3 linked regions of the Homo sapiens genome follow. The protein of the gene in region 1 interacts with the protein of each later gene in a pairwise test. Each region holds a gene or a part of one and is shown on either strand. Other genes may lie near its edges.

Region 1 (8,210 bases):
CTGAGGGTAGACCCCCAAAATCAGTTTCAAGAGTGTGAGATAAGAGGCCTACAAATCACTCTGTCCTTTACAAACTCCCTCCTCATTCTCTGCATTTGCCTAGGATATTCACTCTATATGGAATATCTTTTTCCTAGCTGATTCTACCTGTTCAAATTTTACCGACTACCTGAAGCCATTTTTGATTACTCTGTTATTTGCCTCATCTAAACTCTCGGATCATTTATTCTATGATATGCAGTTTAGCACTTTATAACATGTGGTAGTCTTATGCCAGTCTAATTATTGTCAAAGATGTCAATCCTTTGTTCTAACTCACATAGGAGACTTTTTGTTTTTTTTTTTGTTTGTTTTTTTTTGTTTTGAGAGCTGGAGTCTCGCTCTGTCACCCAGGCTGGAGTGCAGTGGTGCGATCTTGGCTCACTGCAACCTCCACCTTTGTGTTCAAGCAATTCTCCTTCCTCAGCCTCCTGAGTAGCTGGGATTACAGGCATGTGCCACCATGCCCGGCTAATGTTTGTATTTTAGTAGAGATGGGGTTGGTTGGCCAGGCTGGTCTTGAACTCCTGATCTCAAGTGATACGCCCATCTCGGTCTCCCAAAGTGCTGGGATTATAAGCGTGAGCCATGGCACCCAGCCTCACATAGGAAACTTCTTAGAGCAACTTAAAGTTGTTCAACTATGTTATACGTCTTTCTTATGTTTTACTAAGTCTAGTACAGTAAAACATATACAATTAATTATTATTAAAATCACCTTAAGAAATACTAAAAACAAGGCCAGAATATAAGAAATAAAATATTGAGAGCCTATTAACAAACTCAGCTTGTGAGTGATTTCAGGGAATGGAAAGTTGAGTCAAAAAAAAATAGGAAAGATTTTAACAGCTTTCTGTGGATTTTATTATAGATTTTATGTGGAGTAATCCACAGAATATGTAAGACTAGTAGGTACTAGGCACTCAAAAAATGTTTATCATACATATACTTCTGAATAGTTGTCAAGAAAAAAGCAATTTTAAACATGGCTTACGTTACACAGAAATTACCTGGTTTAAGGGCCATCATGTGACCTGAGAAGTTTTGACAGTTTGATCTATACAGACTATGAATGCTAAACTCTTCTACCACATTATAATCCTTTGTCTATCCTTAATAGATATTCAAGTCCTCAAACATACCTTACCCTATGCCTGCACCTTTTGAATGTTCTCATTAAACCAAGGGAAGTCTTGGAACCTCCTTATTAGTCTGCCTTGCCAAGCTGAAGGTATGTAACAATACATATCTATAGTGCAGATAAAACAAGAATATACTAGAATGTGTCTGCTCTGAAAAAGCATCCCAGCTCAAATAAGTTTAGAAAACAATAAATCAAAGCTAAACAACTCTTGTAATGAAAGGACTTCTCAGAGCCCCTAATTTGCTGATCCATACTAAGGGTATTGGTATTTAAAATTATTTACCTGTAAAGAACTTTTTTCCAAGACACACTAAGCAGAGAAAAGCAATAACCTCTACACATATTGGTTCCAATTTCTTGCTCTGGCTCATAAGTATATTCTTTCAAAACTACCCATATAATCACAGAAAAATGTTGTACACCCACACATAAATGTGTACATATTACCAGATGCAAAAGTTTCAAACCAATAATCTGAACTCTAAACATAAGTAACATAAGTAAACATAAACAACTCTAAAACATTAAGGTAGCTCCATATCCTCTGATTGACACATCAATACCTCCTCTTGGATCGTTCTCTGCTCCTATCTCTAGAACTGTGCCGACTTCTCTGGTGGCTACGGCTGCGGCTACGGCTGCTGGAGCGGGACCTGTGGCGATGGCGTTTCTCCCGAGATTTGGATCGAGTTCTCCTCTTGCGTTCACGTGACATGGAGCGAGATCGATGTCTGCGATGCTCTCTGGACCTGGATCTACCAGACAAGATTTGATTTTGTTTCTACCTTTGTAATTACTATATTTCTCATTTATTAAAGCCTTTTCTTTAAAGAGAAACTTTTTTTCAGTAGTCTTAATGTCAATTATATTCCAAGTCAGCTAAATCTACACTGAATTGCTGGTGTGTTAATAACTACATACTAGAATTCAAAATAAAACATTAATAATTCTCAGCCAGGCGCCGTGGCTCACACCTGTAATCCCAACACTTTGGGAGTCTGAGGCAGGAGGATCGCTTGAGCTCAGGATTTCAAGACCAGCCTAGGCAACATGGCGAAACTCTGTCTCTATAAAACATACAAAAATTAGCTGGACACAGAGGCACATGCCTGTAGTCCCAGCTACTCAGGAAGCTGAGGTGAGAGAATCTCTTGAGCCAGGGAGGTCAAGGCTGCTGCAATGACCTGGTGATCACATCGCTGCAGTCCAGCCTGGGCAAAAGAGTGAAATTCTGTCTCAAAAACAAGACACTGATTGATAATTCTCAGAGAGCAATCAGTAATGTATAAATTTATTATCAGAAATAGTTTTTCAAGTGAAAGCAACTTTTGAACCACTACTATATGCCAGGGGCTATATTATCTAGATTTGTTATGAATTTAATTGCACTTAAATATCTTGAACATTTTTGTATCCTCTAGAAATTAAATATGTACCTGACAGACCTGGACAGAAGGGAAGAGAAGAGATGAGGAAGAATACGTCAGGACAAATTACTCTTTGTCTGAATTAGAAAGGTGAGATAACCATAGAAGTAAGTTTTTAATGCCCACAATATGCATGTCTAGTCACAGTGTAATCAAAACAGAGTAAGGGCCAGGGGTAGTAGCTCACGCCTTTAATCCCAGCACTTTGGGAGGCTAAGGAAGGATGATCACCCAAGCCCAGGAAGTCAAGGCTACAGGGAGCTGTGTTCACACCACTGCATTCCAGCCTGGGCAATAGAGAGCAAGACAAAACAAACACAGTAAGACAGTTCTCTATTCAAGGAGCAAACAGTTTGGGAGAAAGAACACTTGCGAAAATCATTTTTGAGAACTTGACTCAGATTGCAAAAAAAATGTATTTCTAATGAATACACAGAAATAGAGAACGAAAAACATTCTGAAAAACCAGAAAATATACGATCAAGGTGCTGGCAAAATAAAGACATTTTTTGAAAAGAAAAAAACCCACAAGGTAAGACACTTTTATAGCCTCCACCAGGTCACAAACTAACTTGTGGGGTGGGTGGGGGTGCATGGTGAGGGTGGAAATGGCATGGAGAGGACATAAACGTTTGACAGAAAACAAGGGGAAACAAAGGAATGCAACTTTGTTAGAAGAGTCACTTTAAGAATGATGGAAATGTTCTCAACTGGATTATGGTGATAGTTGCACAGCTTTAAATCTGCTAAAAAATCACTGACTTCAGAGTAAATCATATATATATATATATATATATATATATATATATATATATATATATATATTTTATACCTCAATAAAACTCTTAAATTTAAGTCACTTTAAGAATGTGAGGTTTGCTCATAATTTGATACAGCAAGTTCAAAATCATATTATACATATGAGATAGTTTACAAATACAGTTTATCTTCAACTGATTGTTATGAACGATGCTAAAAGGCATTCAGCTTATGTCAACATTATAGTCAAAGAAAGGTACATGACATGGACGTAGCTTTAGCCACACTTAAAAAGAGTATTTCTGGCTGGGCACAATAGCTTGTGTCTGTAATCCCAGCACTTGGGGAGGCCACAATGGGAGGACTGCTTAATCCTTAAACGGGAGGAGTTCAAGACCAGCCTGAGCAACATAGGGAGACCCCGTATCTACAATAAATTTTTAAAAATTAGCTGGACATGGTGGCACACGCCTGTGGTCCCAGCTACTCAGGACAGAGTGAGACCCTGTCTCAAAAAAAAAAAAAAAAAAAAAGCGTTATTTCCACAGCTGAAAAGAGTAATTCCAAAAGGAAGCAGAGGGAAAAAATATAAAACTCTCAGTGTAAGTTTTATCAAATCATACTTCGTTTAACCACTCATTTTGAGTTATTATGAATGCCATTTCTTCCAATGTATAACTTTATTCATCTTTTTAAAAATTCTAGGTAATTTTTTCATCCAAAAAATATTCACTAGGTATTTTTGCACTGTTCTATACTAGGGGAGGTTGAGTAGCAAGTAAAACAAAGTTCCTGCACTAAACTTAGTGCTTATACTATAGAAAGGGATCTATACAGGTTTGTAGGCAGTAAATAAAGATATGTCAGGTGGTTAAGAAAAAAAAAAAAGATCTATTGCTGGACATGGTGACTCATGCCTGTAATCCCAACACTTTGGAAGGCTGAGGCAGGCGGATCACTTGAGGTCAGGAGTTCAAGACCAGCCTGGCCAACATGGTGAAACCCCTACTCTACTAAAAATACAAAAAAAAAAAAAAAAAAAAAAAAAAAAACTTAGCAGGGCATGGTGGCACGTGCCTATAATCCTAGCTACTAGGGAGCCTAAGGTAGAAGAATCACTTGAACCTGGGAGGCGGAGGTTGCAGTGAGCTGGCATTTTGCCACTGCACTCCAGCCTGGGCAACAGAGCAAGACTCCGTCTCAAAAAAAAATTAAAAGATGTTATTACGTAGAGTGGAAAAAGAGAAAAGAGTGGAAATATTTATACGGAATAAGCAGGGAAGGCTTTTCTGATAGGTTGGCACTGAAGCAAAGCTGAAAGAAGAAAGGGAACAAGTGAATCAGTCATCTCAGAGAGGAGTGCTTCAGGCTGAGGGAACACAGATGCAAAGTCCCTGAGGTGGGAAAAAGCTCAGCATGTTGAAGGAAAAGACCAGTGTGGCTGGAATGAAGTGAGCAAAAGGAAGTAATATCAGGGTCTTACAGGCAGGATGACCAGGTACTTTATCATTCAAACTAGAAGGCTCTGAATAAGTTACTGAATGTAATGAGAAGCTATTAATACATATTCTGGGATAAAAGACATAAACCAGAACTATCCCAGGGCAGTTTGGGCTATGCCAAGCTTGTCCAACCTGCGGCCTCCAAGCCGCATGCTGCCCAGGATGGCTTTGAATACAGCCCAACACAAATTTGTAAACTTTCTTAAAATATTATGAGATTTCTTTGCAATTTTTTTTCCAGCTCATCAGTTATCATTAGTGTATCTGATGTGTGGCCCAGGTAAGCCAAAAGATTGGACACCCCAGGCCACACCGTCACCCTATGTAAAAGCTTTGGTAAAGATGTTAACTTCTCATATGAATGAGATGAAAAACCTTTGGAGAATCAGAGGGCTGATGTGATGTATTTCATTTATTTAAAGGCTCATCCTGGCTGACGTGTGAAAAATAGAATGAGGTGAAGAAGGGGGGTGGGCAAGCACAGAGAACTAAGGAGCCCAGTTACAAGGCAAACATATTATCTAGGTAACAGGACTAGAGGAATAGAAATTAAATTTCTGGCCCAAATATCTAAAGATGTTCTATGTGCAATACTTTATGTTTTCAACAAAGGGACCAGCTTATATTAATCAAACAGTAAACAATAACAGTATCACAGTTTAATGTTTCTACTTATCATGCTAGATCAGAGAAATTCACCAATAATATAAATTAGCTGACACAACTGGCCCCACTTATTAATGTTCTTTAGTTTTTTTAGTGTTTTAGGCAGAAATATCATTGATAGATGTTGCTAACAGAACTGTAAGGTTTTTGTTTTTCTTTTTTTGAGACAGTCTTACTCTGTCACCCAAGCTGGAATGCAGTGGCACAATCTCGGCTTACTGTAACCTCCACCTCCTGGGTTCAAGTGATTCTCCTGCCTCAGCCTCTCAAGTAGCTGGGATTACAGGCACCTGCCACCACACCCGGCTAATTTTTGTGTTTTTAGTAGAGATGGAGTTTCGCCATGTTGGCCAGGCTGGTCTCGAACTCCTGACTTCAGGTGATCTGGCTGCCTCGGCCTCCCAAAGAGCTGTGATGGTATAAGCGTGAGGCACTGCGCTCAGCCAGGTTTTTCTTTCATAACAACAAATTCTCTACTTTTTAGGGAAAACTTCTTGGGAAATAGTCTCTAGAGCTGAGAACTCAGAAAGTTTCTAAAAGAAGATGTGATCTGAACAAGAGGAATGGTAGAATTTGGAAAAGACTGAGAAAGGGCATTCTAGGTGGGAATGGATCCATGAAGAAAGCTCAACGACTGGAATGAGAAGGGCAAGTGAAGAACTGAGAAAGAATGATGAAGTACAACACATTTCCCTGCCTTTCTCAGACAAAAAAATGTATCAGCAACTAGCAAAAACTACAAAGAAAGGTTTCAAACCCCAAATATTAACGCTGAAAGTCAAAACAAAGTATTGTCTTGCTCTTTTAAGGCTGCAAATGCCTCTCTGAAAGCCTTCTGTGATCACTGTATAAAGGAATGGGTAATAAACTCACATAAAGTCAAGACTGGAGGGTATACTAAACATTTTGGTTTTGCTTAACCCACAGTGGATCAATCAAAATTTTATCCAACTATTAACCTACTAATGTTTTCAACAGCTACAACCTCTTAGAACATGTTTCCTAAATGTACCACCCAAATTGATTTTTAAAAAATTAATCCTTTTACGTATCTACTCTGAGCATCTAAATGATTTCAAAAAAAATTTTCTTTTTTTTTTTTTTTTTTTTTTTAAAGACAGAGTCCTATTCTGTTGCCCAGGCTGGAGTGCAGTGGTGCTATCTTGGCTCACTGCAACCTCTGCCTCCCGGCTTCAAGCAATTCTGCCTCAGCCTCTTGAGTAGCTGGGATTACAAGCATGCATCACCGTGCCCAGCCAAAAAAGAAAATTTTTAAAGGACCATTTAATCAATCTATAAAAACTACCTTTGAAAAAGACAACTTCACTACTTATACCTGTCTTATGTAATACACCTACCTTTTTGGATTCTTGCTGTGTGATCGGGACCTAAAAAAAAAAAATATGTATTTTTAGAAAAGTGGCTATAAATAAGAAAACAGTGCAGTGTTACATTATATTCTTCCTGATTTCTAATGTTTACATTAATTTTATAAATACAAGGCGTGTACCTACGCACACAAAATTTTCCAAAAGACACCACAAACTCGACAGATTTCTTCACCTTGCAGGGTTTGCTTAACTCAAGAATACCTGGCTCTTAAAGAATATGTTCCTAGGAGATTAAAACACAGTACAGGTTGAGTACTCCTTCTCCGAAACGCTAAGGATCATAAGTGTTTCGGATTTTTTCTGTTTTTTGTTTTTGTTTTTTTTTTTTTTAATTTTTACATTTTTTGTTGCCTAGGGTGGTCTTGAACTCCTGGATGCAAATGATCCAACCACCTTGGCCTTCCGAAGTGCTGGGATTACAGGTGGCCGATTTTTTTCAAAATTTGAAGTGTCTGCATTATAATTTACTGGTTCAGCATCCCTAAATCCAGAAACCAAAATCTGAAATGCCCTAATAAGCATCTCCTTTAAATGCTGCCAGCACTCAAGAAGTTTCAGATTTTGAAGCTCACTGGATTTCATTTTTTGGATTTGGGATGCTCAACCTACATATCACAACTTGCTAATTTTCCAGAAACCACTTACCAGCTTGGAAAAAATTCTTTTATATCTGTCATTTCTTTTTTCCCTTCTGGGAAAAGAGTGAAATTTCTATGGTCTGAGATCTACATACTCTTGGAGCTACAACCTCATACTATAATCTCTAGAACACCTAGTTCAATCTTACAATGTGTTTCTTCAAATGAAATGAGATACTCTACTTAAGGCACTTGTCACATTTCCTAGCACACAGGTAACGCTCAATGAAATGTAAAGTGAATATTATGGCTAGTAGGACACCACAGGGATTATTATTTTTTTTTGGATGATATATAGCATTGTTGAAAGCATGACTTTGAGATCAGCCAGATTTGAGTTTTATTTCTGGTTCTACCATTCACTGTCTGTGTGACCTAAGTAAGTTACATATCCTCTCTCAGCTTACTCTGTCACTAGCAAAAGAGGGATACTAATATAAATTTTACTGGGGTGGAGTGGGGGTGGGGTTTATAAAGATTAGATGAATATGGATAAATTCCTTACTACAGTGTCTGGCATACAATAAGCACCCAGTAAATGATTATGATTTTTTTCTTTTATCCCATCTTATATAATTTTATACTAGTTTCTAATTTCCTCATCTTCCATACTTCCATATTTCTTTAAGCTCACAGATTCAACG
Region 2 (9,100 bases), on another chromosome or scaffold:
ACAAGCATGCACCACAACACACAGCTAATTTTTGTATTTTTTGTAGAGATATGGTTTCACCACGTTGCCCAGGCTGGTTTCGAACTCCTGGACTCAAGCAATCTGCCTACCTCGGCCTCCCAAAGTGCTAGGATTACAGATGTGAGCCACTGGGCCCAGCTGAATGGGTTCACTTCACTTTCTATAGTAAAAGTAAGATCCCATCAGTGAGCCTGGGGGGAAAAAAAGACAGGTGGGTGGGAGTGTGTGTGTTTGTGCTGTTTGTTGGAACAGACCTGTCAGGGCATCCAAGTCTTATCAAGTGGTAAGACAGTCTATCGAGTGTGATGGAAGGTGACAGAGACCTGGCAGAGGCATTCATAGGAAAAAGAAAGAACCCTGTTCCTGTTTAGGTGAAGCTGGAAACCATCAATCTTTAGTGGTACAATCTGTATTGTTTTGTGATTTTTCTTTGACAGCATTTTTATTATTCGCATGAAGGAGTAAAGGAGCAGGACTATAGTAGTTATTGAGTGGCTGAGGCAGAATGATTGGGGTACAAATAGCCAAAGATGTTGGTGAGAGAAAGTTCAAATAGTTAAGAATAGGGTATAAACTGGAGAGGAAAGGAGAGGCAAGGTGGGTGCTAGGATAAAATGGGAGGGTTGAAGGGTAGAGATATTTATGAGGAAAAAAAGGCAGGTATAAGGGGACATGAGAGACCTTCCTTTTTTTTTTTTTTTTAAATTCCATTTCTATTTGAACTCTCAAAAGAGAAAAAGAGATTGAAATGACAGAACTTTAGCTAATTTTAATTAAATAAACTTCATAAGGTTTTGTTGTTTTATAACCTTTAGAGTCAGAAAATTCTGACTCCAGTGAGAAAATGTCTTCAACAGAAAGCCAGATGGCCTCTGAGTATCATGTTCATATTTGAAATTGAAATGTAAATGTTACCACATACTTGCTTATTTTAAGGCTGTGGTCCTTTCATTTGCTTTCTTTCCTTTTTTTCATTTAGTCATGTAAATTTGAGCACCTACTCTGTGCTAGGTATCCAATGGGAAACATTATAGACACAAAGAACATTCCAATTAAACTTATATAAAAGGTACTTTAGTGTTTTTCCAGCTAGCAAACATAATGTTCTTGATTTAGTGTTATAATCTTTATTATGTTCAAAAATAATTCCTCTGTTCCAATTTAAATATATATTATCTAAACATATATATACACACATATGCAAACTAGCAAAAATATATATAAACCAGCACACACACACACACACACACACACACACACACACACACACACACACATTGTTGGATTTTATCAAAGTCTATTGGTCATCTATTAAAATGTTCATTTATAACTTGCCTAATTTTAACTATATATTTAGCCTTTAAGGATCTTTTTTAGTGTTGTATTTCTTTATAGGAAATGTCATTCTAATTCTGGAATAGAGTCTATTTGGTTGTGTTCATTCAAAGTATTGCTGGATTCTATTTATGAATATTTTCTTTGGCATTTGTATCAAAAATTTATACCACATAAAATTTAAAAAATGAGGCCTACAACCATTTTATTAATGAAAATAACAGAAAATACACTCTCAATGAGCCATTTACAATACTTCCCTATTTTCTGATTTAGAGATAAATCAGGGTCGTGTAATAGCAGTTGTGTCCAAGAAAATATAATGTCAAGAGGCCAGAATTAAATCCATACAGAAAATGATTGTGTTCATTTCAGAGTAACCTTTAAGAGGGCAATTTTGGGGAGCAGCAAGGGCAAAAGCCAAACTGAATGGGGTTAATAATGAATAGATGAGAGGAACTAGAAGCAGCTATTGCAAGCTACCATTTTGAGAACCTGCCCAAAGAAAGAAAAGACTGAAGGGATGGAAGATTGCAGAAAGCATGATCGGAGAAGAGATATTTTACTTTTAGTGAAGCTCTATACACATTTGTCTTCCTCACTAGATTTGTATCCCTAGAACCTAGAACAGAGTCAGCCAAAGAGCAGGCACTCAATACAAATTGTTGACTTGCTGCTAAAATTGTAACAGAGTACAAAGAACATCCTAGAAATTGGAGACAAAGGGGATAAGAAAACAGAGTTAACTTGGAAAGAGAAGACACTCATCTCTGACAAGACTGAAGATGATTACACAACACCATCATTGCCAACCAAGTCCTTTGGGAATACAAAGGTTAAATCCTAATCATCACAACAGTCTCTAAAGGAATAAACCTGATTTACAGATTTTGATAACAAAATACTTCTCCTCTTTCCATTTTCTACAATGCAACCAACAGCAACATCAAAGGTAGGCTTAACCAACTCTTCGAGAAAAGTCAGAGTTAATCCAGATTGTAAAGCGTCCAGGTCCCCTGTTTCTCATTTCCTCTTTTCTGTCGCTCTGACAACAGACTGGGCAGAGATGGAAAACAAAACAACTTACCAAACTGTGTAGCCTTTAGCAGCTCTGGTAAATGCATTTAGGGCTGTGTTAGGATAACTGTTAAAACGGACTCTTTAGGATAGCAAAACATTTTACTTATTTGTGTAATTTCTCTCTCCAAGTAGTACGATAAATCAGGAAGTAGTTAATATGTAAGTAAAGAACATAATGGCATAAAAATATCCCCACAGAATACACAGTTGATGTGTTTTAAAATTCACAAAAATTTTACAAAGTTGAAGAATGGGAGTAGGATAACAGGGTGATGGGGGGAAGCAGCCACAGAATTAGATAAAATGGTATAATTTCAGGTCTAAGGTGAGACACGACAGTTGCTAAAGGAAATATCTGCACTAAGATGACTTGCTAGTTTTGATCACCCTGCGTCAAAGGTAATGGGAATCTAATTGGAAAAAGATGGGCCCCGTTTTCAACATCGCTACCCTGGCAGCCACAGGCTGGGAAGGATACAGGTAAGAGCCAGGTCGGTGATGCCCGCCGCTCTCCCGAGGGCCGAGGGGGGCTCTGTCGAGGTTGTCCGATGATTCAGTGCCCAGTTCCCCGACCGCGCTCCGGGTTCCGGGCCTCCCCGCCAGCATCCTTCACTTCAGCGCCGCCTGTCTGCTCGCCCCCAGAACCTCCCTCATGGCAGCTCCGGCTTCCTCCTCCTCCTGCTCGGCCCCTCCCTACACTCCGTCTCTCAGGCCCCGCGTCACGGGCGCGGAAGGGTTGGCCTCGACAGCCCTAGCTCCCGCGCAGCGGCACTGGTGCCTGTAGCGGCGATGGCAGCTGAGGCAGCGGCGACCTCGCCGGGCAATAGCAGATGGGGCGGCAGCAACCCTGCAGCCGCCATCTTGACAACAACCGACGGCGCGTCCTTGACAACGGAAACCTGGGAGGAGCTACAGGTCGGGGCGGGACGATGTGCCCGAAGCAGCCAATCGCAGGCTCCGGCGGCCCCTCCAGCTTCGAGCGGCGGGTGGCAACCCAAGCATCCCTAGGGACCCGGGTTGTTGCGCGAGGGGTGAGCTGAGTGTTGTTTTAGAGCCTGATGCAGTTCTGCCTCCCTTTTTATGAGAGTGTTTTTGTGGCAGTACCGACAGTGACGAAAGACAGATGTAAAATCCTCAGATACAGGCAATTGCCACCGGGAGGAGTCTGCAGTGATTGTCTGGGGGACAATTTGGAGTTGAATTTGTTAAACTACTGAATCCTGTTGTGAGATTTTGAGTTGTGAGTCTTTCTGTGGCATCATCATCCCCAAACACCGTCTCTTTAAAATGTCTTTGTGAAGTGGAAATTTTCCTTCCCTGCATTCTCTCATCCACTCGGTAATGCTTCTGGCATTCCCTCTGCAGTCGTCTTCCTTGCCTTTGCCCTACTTAGAAGGTCTACATTTCAAAGCCTCCTAATGGTTCTCGCATTGCTGCCAGATTCTGGAAATGGACCATCACAGCAAAACTAGCAATCTCTTGGGAAGATATGCCAAAAGAGATCATCGCATTGAAATGGTTTTGGGAAGTATGGAAAATTAAATGGATTTTTGAGACACTAGTTTATTGGCTATGCAAGTGACAGTTTTGAAAAAGGCTGAATCTTATTGTTGGAGCCTAATGTAAATGCATATATAAATTCTGACTGTATTTCAGTCAGTGTTTTCTTGGAAAAATTCCCAGATTGGAAGCAGAAAGTACAGACCAAATAAAGATTATTCACCCACCATTCAAATGTCTCTGCCTTTGTGAATTAATTTGTTCATTTTAAGATTTCAAATAATAAACTTTTCCAGTTGAAACTGTTTAAAACAATCTTTGCAAACTTGGTTGCAATGACTCAAATTGGAATGTACACTGGCGACAGATTTTAAAGTGCCACAACAAATCCAGTTTCGATTTAAGACACAAAACACATGAACTCTCCTTCAGAAGCATACCAACAGGATAAAATATACAATTCTGACATGAAAAGCTAAATGTATACAACTGGACACTTGGCTATCTTGGCAAGTTTTTAATTGGCCTAGCCACAGGCAATGGCCTTGATTCTATTCCCACTGCTGTCATCACACGTTTGTCTCCCCATGGGTGATCTGAGTAAAGTAGGGCAGTGCAAAGTACAGATGAATATGAGAATATTAGAGTTGCTATTTGGAATATTTAGGCATGGTTAGCTTTCCAGAAGTCCAGCTTTTGCTATATTATTAGTTTGCGATCTCGTAAGTCCTAGGCATCTCACTGCTTTGTGGCTTGGTATATTAGCACTAAGAAGCATAATTTGGTTTCTCAATTGCCTATAAATCCTTTCTTACGTTAACTTAAAAAAACACGTAATTTATGAATCTAGAAAGGAGAGGAAAGGGTTACAGCCTGAAAGGAGGGCCATCCCACAAGCTGGGAGTGTGCCTCCAACTGAAGCCTAAAGAGGCAGGTACTTTGAAGGAGGGATGTTGAGGTAGGAGATTTATGCTGAAAAGTTGGCTAAACATACATAATTTATAGGATATAGGAGGAGCTATGAATATTTATGAAGGTAGTTCTGATGCATGTATATTGAACAAACAGTAACATATGACCCATGTTCATTTTGGGCTGGAGACTTAACATTTAATTGCATTACAATTAGGCCCTATTATGTCTAAATTTTTTTTAGGACACAAAGGCACTCAAGTGAGCAGTCCTCTTAAACTGGCCAGAACCACCTCATGGTTGGTGATGTTCTCATCAGGAGAAAGTTATTGAAATCAGTCTGTTGTCCAATCAAAGCTGTAGTTATGGCTTATGGAACAGAGGGTCAGTTAGTCAGTGTCTGGTGGTGAGCTACGATTGTTTTACTATTGCTTATCTCAAGGCCAGTGTTTGTTTAGCTGCTAGAGAAAAACAGAAAACTTGTGGAAGTTAAACATAGTTTATTCTTTAAGTGTAGGAGTGCATGACTTAACCCTTGCCTGGCATGGCCTTAGGTCCTATTTGTAATTTGATATCTTACTGCCACCAAGTGTCTGTTCCGTCAGTCTAATGATCTCTACTTTAACGTTAATCCTGGTCAATTGTGTCCAAACTACAACAGGAAGAGGATATAATGAGGCATAGCTGACCTTCCATCCCATTATGGCTGGGAACTCAGTTTTAAGGTTTTCCCAGGGTCCCCTTGGCCAAGAGGGGGTCTATTCAGTCAGTGGGGGCTTAGGATTTTATTTCAGTTTAGACTTATATAATTATTCTTCATTCAAATATTGTTTTACGGTAACAACCAAGAAGAAAAGAAATTTCAAACAATGTTGCCAGTTTTTTTAATCATAGGTTTTTTCGACCTTTAAATTCTTTCTTTATTTCTTCAAAATATTAAGTGGGTTTTCCACATTCTATTTAAGTTGTAGAATCCTAGATTCTTATAGAAAGGCAGGGCCCAAGGGGCTCTGAACATCATGATGCTTGATTTTGTCATGACTTTTTTGTCAGTGTTATTTATGGAAAAAGGCTTTAGGATTAGATATTTGGATAATAAAAAATTTGAGGATTTTATCAACTTCATCTCTTGACAGGAAAGGCAGTTGTGATTCAAGCAGTAAAGAAGAATGTTACCCTAAAATCCCTATTTTTTATCAGAAGGGGCATCTGAATTAAATACAATGTTATATTCTTTCACACTTTAAAACCATAAAACAATTCCTTCTTTTGCTAAGGAAATATATATTGAGCACCTACTATGTGCCAAGCACTTTCCAGGTGCTAGGGATACAGTGAATAAAACTTCAAAGTCCTTATGTTCGTGAAGCTTATATTTATTTTTCTTCCCCACTAGAACATATTAGGGTAGTGAAAAGTGCTACATGGAAAGTGGGATAGTGAAGGGGGATAGAGACCAATGTCAGTTCTATCTGTGAGAGGGTGCTCAGGAAAGGCCCCAAAGGAAGGGAAATTAGGACAGAGGTCTGAATGAAGGAAAGAGGTTGCCATTCAAATATCTGGATGAAGAATAAGGGCACAGGGGTCTGTGAGTACAGAAGACTGTGAGGACAGAATCATACTGTTGTGCTCAAAGAACAGCACAAGACCACTGTTGCTGGAATAGAGTGAGGTAGGGTGTATTAGGCAGTTCTCGCACTGCTATAAAGAAACACCTGAGAGTCGGTAATTTATAAAGAAAAGAGGTTTTATTGGCTCATGGTTCTGCAGGCTGTACAGAAAGCATGGCAGCATCTGCTTCTGGGGAGGCTTTAGGGAGCTTTTTACTCATGGTAGAAGGAAAAGTGGGAGCAGGCATCTTACATGGCAGGAGCAGGACTGAAAGAGAGAGGGGAGGTGCCACACACTTTTAAAATGACCGGATCTCATGAGAACTCACTTACTATTGTGAGAACAGCATCAGTGGGGATATCTGCCCCCATGATCCAATCACCTTCCATCAGGCCCTACCTCCAACATTGGGGATTACAGTTTGACGTAAGATTTGGGCGGGGAGGCCTGGCATGGTGGCTCACGCCTGTAATCCCAGCACTTTGGGAGGCCAAGACAGGTGGATCACCTGAAGTCAGGAGTTTGAGACCAGCCTGGCCAACATGGTGAAACCCCATCTCTACTAAAAACACAAAAATTAACTGGGCGTGGTGGCAAGCGCCTGTAATCCCTGCTACTTGGGAGGCGGAGGAAGGAGAATCGATTGAAACTGGGAGGCAGAGGTTGCAGTGAGCCGAGATTGTGCAATTGCATTCCAGCCTGGGTGACAGAGCAAGGCTCTGTCTCAAAAAAAAAAAAAAAAAAAAAAAAAAAAAAAAAAAAAAAAAAAAAAAGATTTGGGTAGGGATGCAGGTCCAAACCATATAATAAGGGAAGTGTGCTAACATATGAGATTGTAGAGGTACATGGCCCAGATTTAGTGGCGACTTGTATTGTATGCAAGGACTTAATGTAAAATCCAACTTTCAATGGAGGGAAATCCATTTGAGAGTTTTGATTAGAAGAGTAACACAATTTTATTGAACCTTTAAAGAGACCCTCTAGTTGTTGTGGGGAAAACTAGGTTGTAGGAGATAAGACCAGAAACAATAAGGACAGTTTTAAGGTTACCAGAGATGGCAGACTTGGACTAGGATGGTAGCAGTGGAGGTGGCAAGAAATGTTTACAGTTTGAACCTTGAGCCAATAAGATGTGTTGGTGGATGGTTGCAGTAAGCGAGAGAAAAAAAGTCAAATGTGACTCAGATTTTTGGCTCAAACAATTGGATAAAGTGTGTTGCCATTACTAAGATGGGAAAGAATAGGTAGGGGTGGAATAAGGAATACGAGTTAGGCTTCAAACATGTTAAATGTGAGATGTCTATTAGACATGCAATTTCATTAATGTGGTCTCATAAATCGTTGATGTTTTATTTACAAAGGAAACTAATAATAACCACTTTATGGTTATAAAGCATATTCACATAACTTATCTAATTTGAATATATATATATATATATATATTTTTTTTTTTTTTTGAGACGGAGTTTTGCTCTTGTTGTTCAGGCTGGAGTGCAATGGCATGATCTCGGCTCACCACAACCTCTACCTCCCGGGTTCAAGCAATCCTCCTGCCTCAGGCTCCTGAGTAGCTGGGATTACAGGCATGCGCCACCACGCCCAGCTAATTTTGTATTTTTAGTAGAGACAGGGTTTCTCCTTGTTGGTCAGGCTGGCCTCAAACTCCCAACCTCAGGTAATCCGCCCGCCTCAGCCTCCCAAAGTGCTGGGATTACAGGCGTGAGCCACCGCGCCCAGCCTGAATATTATTTTTAGTATCTTTAGAACAGAAAATAAACAGAATTTATTTGAGCAAAGAATGATTTACGAATTGGGCAGCACCCAGAACAAGAAGTTCAGAGAGCTCCACCCAGCAGCATGAGCAGCAAGATTTTGTTGGACACAGAAACAAAGTAGAGGAATCATGTGATTGCCTACAGCTAGGTGTTTATCTTATTTGGGTATACTCTGATTAGTTGGCTGCCTATGATTGGCTGAAACTCCACTATTTGTTACAAAAAATATACTCCTAAGTCAGGCTGCAGTTTGCTACAGAGGAACTCAAAGTACAGAGACAGCCTCAGGCAATGGCCTCCTGCTTATTTAATTTAACAAGTATTATAACCATGTGGCAGCTGTGATGGACAATTTTTTTGTGCTTTCACTTTTGTCTTGGCTGAGGCTATTTTTTTTTTTCCATCTTCCACTGAAGTATTTTCTTGCTCAAATAAGAATTTCCTGAATTGGTCTCTGGGCAAGATGTGAAAGAACAAAGAATTTTAACATCTGGCTGATTTAAAGTTCTGCCAACTTCTGCTGAAGTTCTGCCATTTTCACTTGAATTTTGTAAGACTTCAACTAGAAATTTAAGATTACAATATGTGTATTTGCCTATTAATATAAATTATAAAAGTCATCAATATTGTCCGCAATGTTACATATCTTTTAATCCATACAACAATTTCCATAATACAAAGGAGGTAATCAAGCTATAGCAATATTAGTAACTTTGTCCAAGATTCCAGGGTAAGGGAGTGTTGAAACTAATCTTTAAATCAGGCAATCTGGTCTTGGAGCCGGCACTCCCAACCATCTCATACTGTCTCACTGGAGAAACTCTGAGAAAGTGATTGCCACAAATAAGAGATATGATTGTTTGGGT
Region 3 (8,149 bases), on another chromosome or scaffold:
GGCTAATTTTTGTATTTTTAATAGAGACAGGGTTTCACCATGTTGGCCAGACTTGTCTCAAACTCTTGACCTCAAGTGATCTGCCCGCCTTGGCCTCCCAAAGTGCTGGGATTACAGGCATGAGCCACCGTGTCCAGCCTTGATTTTTTCTTTTAAAATTCAAAGTAGCTTTGCTTTATCTGATTCTAAAGTAATGTGGCTAGGCACAGTGGCCCACACCTGTAATCGCAGCACTTTGGAAGGACCAGTTGGGGGATCGCTTGAGCCCAGGAGTTCAAGACCAGCCTGGGCATCATAGTGAGGCCTTGTCTGTACAAAAAAAATTTAAAAAATTAGCCAGACGTGGTGGTGTGTCCCTGAGTTTCAGCTACACAGGAGGCTGAGGCAGGAGAATCATTTGAGCTCAGGAGGTCAAGGCTGCAGTGAGCCTTGTTCATGCTACTGCACTCTAGCCTGGATGACAAAGCCAGACCCTGTCTTAAAAATAAATAATAAATGAATGAATGAATTCATTATTCGTTCTTTATAAATCTTTATAAACTAAAACTTATAAAACTTAAGAACAGACAGATATTCCTTTAATTGGATAAAAAATCTATCTCAGGCCTAAAGGTTACATGATACTTAACTGCAACAGTAGAGATATTCCCTCTGAAATGAATTTAAAGCAGAAGTATTGTTAGATCCTTTATTATTTAGCATTGTTATTGAAGTGCTAGCCAGTACAAGACCTGAAACATAAATAACTATTTATCCCCAAAAATCAGCGAATAGAATTTTCAAATCAAGAAGAAAGTAAAGATCATTTTTAATCTTGTTGTACAGAGATAATGTTAAATTTTTATTCTTCCAAACTTTTAAATTCCCTGTCCCTCTCTTCTATATATGGGCATATTGTATGTGTGCTTTCTTTAATATAAAAGTGTTGTCATACCTGACACACTATTTTTGAAGCTGCTGGACTCTATATAATCTTAGTATCTTTCTTAGTTAGTTAATATAGATAAACATAATCATTTTTAATGATTGCATAGTCATCCATATGTCATTATCCATTTACCAAATCTTCTATTAATAAACATTTAGGATTTTTTTAGTTTATCTATCTTTGTATACTTGTCAAATAATTTCTTTAGGGTAAATTACTAGAAATGGAATTACTGGGTCAAAGGATTTATGTATCTCAAGTCTTTTCCCAAATTGTGATACAGAAAGCTTATGTCAGTTTAGTGCTATGAGCAGTTGCATTACAGCTGTACCAATGCTGGGTTTTACTAGGTATTACCAATCTTTTTATTCTTTGTCAACCTGATAGGCTATAAATTATCTCACTATTTTATTTTGCATTTCATTGATTTTGTATATGGTGTCTTTACTTTACATGAATTTTCAAATTTTATCTCCAATTTATTTATCTTTCCCCTTAACAGTCTTCTAAATTTTGGGCCATTCTTAGCAAGGTCACACTATTGCAAAATTATTATTTTTCTATTAGTTATATTTTCTTTAGTACTTATGATTGTATTATTTGTTTGCTTTTTACATTTTAAATAATTTAGCAATTTAGAATTTGACTGCAAGATGTAAAGTAGGAACTTAAATTTCATATATTAAAATGGTCCAGCCGGTTGTCCTAACACATTTTGAATAATTCATCATTTCTCCATTGATCTGAAAAGCTACTTTTATTATATACTGAATTTCCATATACACATGGGACTGTTTTAGGATGACTTTTTATTATGATTAGGTAGATCTGAAGACTCCCATTACAATATATTGTATTAAGTCCAGAAATGTGCTTAATTCTTAAACTTACAAATGAAAAAAAATTAATAGTATAAATGTTTATAGCTAAATATGGTCATACTCAGAGATGTTATTTTATTTTTTCTGTTTTGGTTTTAGTGGAGAAAGTAGCAAATGAAAGCCAGAAGACCCCCAGGGATGTGGTTATGATGGAAAACTTTCACCATATTTTTGCAACTCTTTCTCGATTGAAAATCTCATGTCTAGAAGCAGAAAAAAAAGAAGCCAAACAAAAATACACAGATCACCTTCAGTCTTATGTCATTTACTCTTTAGGACAACCTCTTGAAAAACTAAATGTAAATATATTTTCATTCAGTATTTTTCCTACTTTTGAACCTATACACATAAGTTTGCATATGAATAACCTGCAGACATTTATCTTAAATTTTCTCATGTGTTGGTGCACAGGGGACTCAGTTATTGAAGCTGCCAGTGTGCCAGACACTGCTAGATGCTATATATTTTATTTCTTCTTTCTGTACATTATTTTTATACATTATTTATCTACTATATTTTAATGATAATTGTACTAGTATTCTATTATGCATTATTTCTTTTAATTCTTATAAACAATGATGTGTAAGCTAAGATAATATTATCCCCATTTCACAAATGAAGAAACTGAAAGTAAAAAAACTTGCCCGACATCATAATAGCTTATAAATTACAAAGCTGGGGGATGAACCTAGATTAGGCTTTGCCGTTACTCTTTCCCATTTCTTACTTTATAAATGACCAAGTTTACAATGTCTAGGTGGAAATTTCAAAAATATTATTAAGATAAAAGAAAAACCAAAAATTGCTTTCTACATTGCCTTTTACTTTTCTTTCCCTTCTTTTTTTTTCCTTACTTGAGTCATTTCCCAGAGTAAGTCTGTTAATTAAAGTTAAGAAATGATGATTTTAGGGAACTTTACAAGATAGTGAAAGCTTAAATGAACCTTTTAAACTAACTTTGTCTGCAATATAGTTATCTTTTATAAGCTCTTAACTTGAAGTTAGAGTAAAATAGCGCGGTGACTCACACCTGTAATCCCAGCACTTTGGGAGGCCAAGGCAGGCGGATCACGAGGTCAGAAGATCGAGACCATCCTAGCTAACAAGGTGAAACCCCGTCTTTACTAAAAATGTAAAAAAAAATTAACTGGGCGTGGTGGCACGCTCCTGTAGTCCTAGCTACTTGGGAGGCTGAGGCAGGAGAATCACTTGATCCTAGGAGGTGGTGGTTGCAATGAGTGGAGATCACACCACTGCGCTCCAGCCTGGGCGACAGAGCAAGACTCAGTCTCAAAACAAAACAAAAAAAAAGAATATGTATCTGCTGTCAACAATTCAAAGAAATACTTGAAAGACATTTAATCAAATGCAGAACTAATTCCTTATAAAACTTAAGAACAGACAAATATTCCTTTAACTGGATAAAAGATCTATCTCAGGCCTAAAGCTTACATGATACTTAACTGCAACGTTAGAGACATTCCCTCTGAAATCAATTTAAAGCAGAAATATTGTTAGATCCTTTATTATTTAGCATTGTTGTTGAAGCACTAGCCAGTTCAACAAGACCTGAAACATAAATAAGAGATATGGAAAACAGAGACGAGATTATCACCACCTGTATATGATATGTTGAAATTACTGGTGTTGGTCAAGTGACAAAATTTAAAGCAAATATACTGAAAAACAATGTATTTCCTGTCTACCAATTAAGAGCTTATGTAAAAACAAAATTTTTAAAGCACTAAGAATAACTTCTCAAAGAATGATAATTTAATGAATAATCACTAAGAAAATTTTAGAAAAAAGTAATGAGAGGGAATGGGGTTTGTCAGCATTAATTCTTTGTATCGTGCTCAAATACAGTTATGCCAGTCAATAAAAGTATATATATAAAAGAAGACCTGGGAATAATAGTTACAATAATATAACAGAGTCAGTATATTTAATATAAAAAATCTTACTAAAATCAATAAGAAAAGCACTAAGACCCCAATTTATAAATGGGGCAAGGGGCTGAATCACTACTAAACATATAAAAGCAGGTTAACCTTATTTATAGCCAAAGAATTATAAAATAAAATGACAAACTTTTTTTACTCTGGCAACTATTGTTATAAATTGTCATAATGCTTATGATGGTATAGTGAAGTAGCAACCTCATACACTGTTGACAGAAATATAAATTGGTTGAGCTTTCCTAGGAAGCAGTTTGTATATATACTGAAGAATCTTTCAAATACTTAAAGTTATGCTCTTCAACAGAGTAATTATAGTCCTGGAAATTTAATCAGTAAGATGGGTAAATACTTATATACAAAAAAAATTTATGACAAATATATTTATAGTAGATTTTCTAAAGTCTCACTAGATTTGCCAAGTCCAAAAAAAGAAGGGGGAGTGGGATGTTAAATATCTAGTACTAGAGGAATGAATAATAATTGTGGTTCAGTCATTGTGTGAAATATTATGCAGCCATTAAAATTTATATTTAGGAAAAAACAATATTAAATGTAAAGTGGGACATGAAATTTTAATCTCCTGTATGTATTCACACATCAAAAGATTACAAGGAACTCTACAATATTAACAATGTTCATCTCAGAAGTATGTTAATAAGTGATTGTTATTTTATTGTTTATACTTTCACACACTGATTTTTGCATGGTGATTATACACTACTTTGTAATCAGATTTTTTTAATGTAAATAATAATAAATGCAGGTCTTAGCCATTGTTTCTTTTCATTTCCTTGAAGCATTTCTTTGAAGGTGTTGAAGCTCGCGTGGCACAGGGCATAAGGGAGGAGGAAGTAAGTTACCAACTTGCATTTAACAAACAAGAACTTCGTAAAGTCATTAAGGAGTACCCTGGAAAGGAAGTAAAAAAAGGTCTAGATAACCTCTACAAGAAAGTTGATAAACATTTATGTGAAGAAGAGAACTTACTTCAGGTATGCTTACTTCTTTTGACCATCTGACTTAAAGATCCTTACATATATTGCTTTTCTTTAAATAATTTTCTAGAAATGCTACAGATCTAGAGCAGGAGGAGAGTTCCATTAGAGTACAGACCAGATTAATGAATTGTGAGGAAGAAAGGAATACTGTTTATATAAGCATATATGGCTATTTCTGCTTATTTCGTATTTCTGCTATATTATGGTGAGGCATTAAGTTTGTTTTTCTTTGGTTGGTTGGTTGGTTGGTTGGTTGGTTGGTTGAGTGGTTGGAATTAGAGATGGGTTCATAATCTGGCTCCAGATTAAGCTGTGTGACTTTGGGAAGTTACTTAACCTCTCTGAGCCTTAGTTTCCTTATTTGATAAGTGGAAACGATACATCTCTTGTACAGTAGCCACTGTATTGGGCAACATAGCAAGACCTTGTCTCTACTAAAAATTAAAAAAATTAGCTGGGCATGGTGGCACGTGCCTGTAGTCCCAGCTACTCGGGAAGCTGAGGCAGGAGGATCACTTGAGCCCAGGAGATTGAGGCTCCAGTGAACTATGATCCTACCACTGCACTCCAGCCTACGCAACAGAGTGAGGCCGTGTCTCAATTAAAAAAAAAAAAAAAAAGAAAGAAAGAAAGAAAAAGAAAGAAAGAGAAAGAAAGAAAATCAGCTTAGAGAGGTGGAGTAATAGGACCAAGCTCTCTTAACTAATGGGTAGTGGAGCCAGATTTAAAGTCCAAATTAGGCCATTATTCTTTATAAACCATATTGAAAGGCCCAGATATGAGTGAGAGTAATTCTGATTTCAACATCATGGAAGACTTCCTGAGGGATATTGCATTGTTTGTTTTAACCTCTGAAAGTCAGATGTACTTGAACAGGCAAAGTGGGGATGGAGGGAGTAGCATTCTAGAAAGAAATAATATGAGCTAAACGATGAAAAGTAAAAAGCATAACACTGCTTAGGGAATAGCGATTGGTCTTAAGTTGGCAGGAATTTAGGATTTATGAGATTTAGGATTTACAAGAAAAAATCTTGGAAGAATACATTCCCTCAGCTGTCAAATAGGGAAGATGATCATAATACCCACCCTCACCAGGTCATCATGAGACTTAATACTATAATATATTCATAAAGTGCTTTGTACTGTGCTGATAAAGAGTAAGCTTCAATTAATGTAATCTATTTAAGCCATTATGTCAATGTGTGTATCACATTGTGTCTTGGTAATTGTCTACATATTAGCCTCCACTGTTAGATTATAAATCACATGATTGCAGATAATGGGTCTGAGTCATTTTGCTGTCCTCCAAGGCATCAAGCAAGGTTTTGCATCAACAATTTTAGATAAAGAAAACTTTAAATGTTATAGGAAATGAAATTAAAGCATTACATTTTATGTAATCACTAGTCTTAGTTCTATACATAATTGTGCATATCCACATCTGTGTTGCATATTGGAGTATATAAGATAATAGCTAAAATGTCATGAGTGCTTACTTGTGTCAAACGCAGTTTGAAGCACTTTATGTACATTTCTTATTTAATTCTCACAGCATTATGAGGAAGGTCTTATTATTATCTTGGTTTATAGATGAGGAACTTGAGGCATAGAGCAGTGATGTCATGTACTGAAGGTTACAAATCTTGTAGGTAAAAGTGACTGGGATTCTGGTTTCAGAATGCATGTTCCTAGCTACTATACTACCCAAATTCTTAGAATATGCCTTGGCATTATTTCTGCATACTAGATTACATATTATTTCCATTCATAGCCTAATGACTTTTTTTTTTAATAATAGGTGGTGTGGCACTCCATGCAAGATGAATTTATACGCCAGTATAAGCACTTTGAAGGTTTGATAGCTCGCTGTTATCCTGGATCTGGTGTTACAATGGAATTCACTATTCAGGACATTCTGGATTATTGTTCCAGCATTGCACAGTCCCACTAAACCTTGTGAAAGAAGAAAAGATAACTGAATGAAGCATTTGAGTATAACAGACACTATACCAAAATACCAAGCAACTGTTTTGAGAACCCAGACTTAAAATTTTATGTATTATTAAATGTTAGATAAATGGGTAGTACCATACTACAAATATTTAAATGCAAAATTACCAACCTATATAGCAGTTTTATTTGCCCTATAGGTTGCATACTAACTTAAGCATTCATGTCACCATAAAATGCCTTTAGCATTTCTCAATGACTGGATGGGAAATTTTCCTTTATTGCCTAGCTGCTTGTGTTTGAGTGGTTGTCCTATGAGCAATGCATTTGGAGTTCTTCAGCTTTCACTACTTCTCTGTTGCTTGCTAATCATGTAACTACTAAAATACTGTACAAAATTGTTTTTTCACACTAACAAATGTGTATATGGAGAAGAGGGCTCATGTGATGATCATTTGTGAACTTAGATTTTTGAGGATTATGTGACTAGTAATAAATGTGAAATAAATTTTCAAAAAAGTTGACATTTGATAATATTTTTAGGTCTATCATATGCTGTCTTCTGTATTAAAGCAAGTTCTTACAAAATCCATATACAAAAATTAATTGCAAGTTTATATACCACAAAACACTTAAAAGTTTAATAATAAGTAAAGTAAGCCGGGTGCAGTGGTTCATGCCTGTAATTCCAGCACTCTAGGAGGCCAAGGAGGGAGGACTGATTGAGGCCAGGAATTTGAGACTAGTCTGGGCGACACAGTGAGACCCTGTCTCCATAGAAGAACAATTTTTTGTGGTGGCACATGCCTATAATCTAAGCCACTTGAGAAGCTGAGGCAGGAGGATTGCCCCAGCCCAAGAGTTTGAGTGAGTTGTGATTGTGCCACTGTACTCCATCCTGGGCAACATAGCAAGATATTGTCACTTGAAAAAAAAATAAGAAAAATAATAATATTGAAGATGTTTAGTATTTAGGACTAACTCTAACAAAAGATGTGCTATATCCTGAATTGTGGCCCTACTAACATTTTATGTTGATGCCCTAACCCCCCATGTGGCTGTATTGGAGATAGGGTCTTTAAGGAGACGATTAAGTTTAAATGAGGTCAGAAGAGTAGGAACCCTGATCCAATAGACTCAATGCCCTTGTAAGAAGAGGAAGAGACAGCAGAGCTCACTCTCCCTCTGCTGTGGGAGGGCACAATGAGAAGGCAGCTGTCTGCAAACCAGGAAGAGAGCCCTCACCAGAACCTGACCATGCTGGCACCATGATCTCAGACTTCCAGCCTCCAAAACTGAGAAAATAGTTTGGCAGCCCAAGCTAATACAAGATGTATAAGACATTTATGGAGAAATTAGAACTACTGAAAGATATTAAAGAAAACCAAAATAAGTGAAGAAGTATTTAATGTTTCCAGATAAGAACACATA

The links.
Region 2: the proteins of LUC7L2 (region 1) and CEP126 interact in a two-hybrid assay, tested with the Homo sapiens proteins (2 studies listed by BioGRID and IntAct).
Region 3: the proteins of LUC7L2 (region 1) and EXOC1 interact in a two-hybrid assay, tested with the Homo sapiens proteins (2 studies listed by BioGRID and IntAct).

What each region holds. Positions count from the first base shown.
Region 1 is NC_000007.14:139,411,266-139,419,475, reverse strand, and holds part of LUC7L2 (putative RNA-binding protein Luc7-like 2), read right to left. Parts: intron 6,926-8,210; coding exon 6,896-6,925; intron 2,015-6,895; exon of another isoform or gene 1,939-2,014; coding exon 1,747-1,938; intron 1-1,746. Other genes in the region: FMC1-LUC7L2 readthrough protein, read right to left, coding at 1,747-1,938, 6,896-6,925. UniProt on the Homo sapiens protein: May bind to RNA via its Arg/Ser-rich domain.
Region 2 is NC_000011.10:101,909,227-101,918,326, reverse strand, and holds the start of CEP126 (centrosomal protein of 126 kDa), read right to left. Parts: upstream 3,318-9,100; 5' UTR 3,043-3,317; coding exon 2,915-3,042; intron 2,309-2,914; exon of another isoform or gene 1,805-2,308; intron 1-1,804. UniProt on the Homo sapiens protein: Participates in cytokinesis. Necessary for microtubules and mitotic spindle organization. Involved in primary cilium formation.
Region 3 is NC_000004.12:55,897,777-55,905,925, forward strand, and holds the end of EXOC1 (exocyst complex component 1), read left to right. Parts: intron 1-1,908; coding exon 1,909-2,108; intron 2,109-3,058; exon of another isoform or gene 3,059-3,378; intron 3,379-4,567; coding exon 4,568-4,762; intron 4,763-6,566; coding exon 6,567-6,719; 3' UTR 6,720-7,310; downstream 7,311-8,149.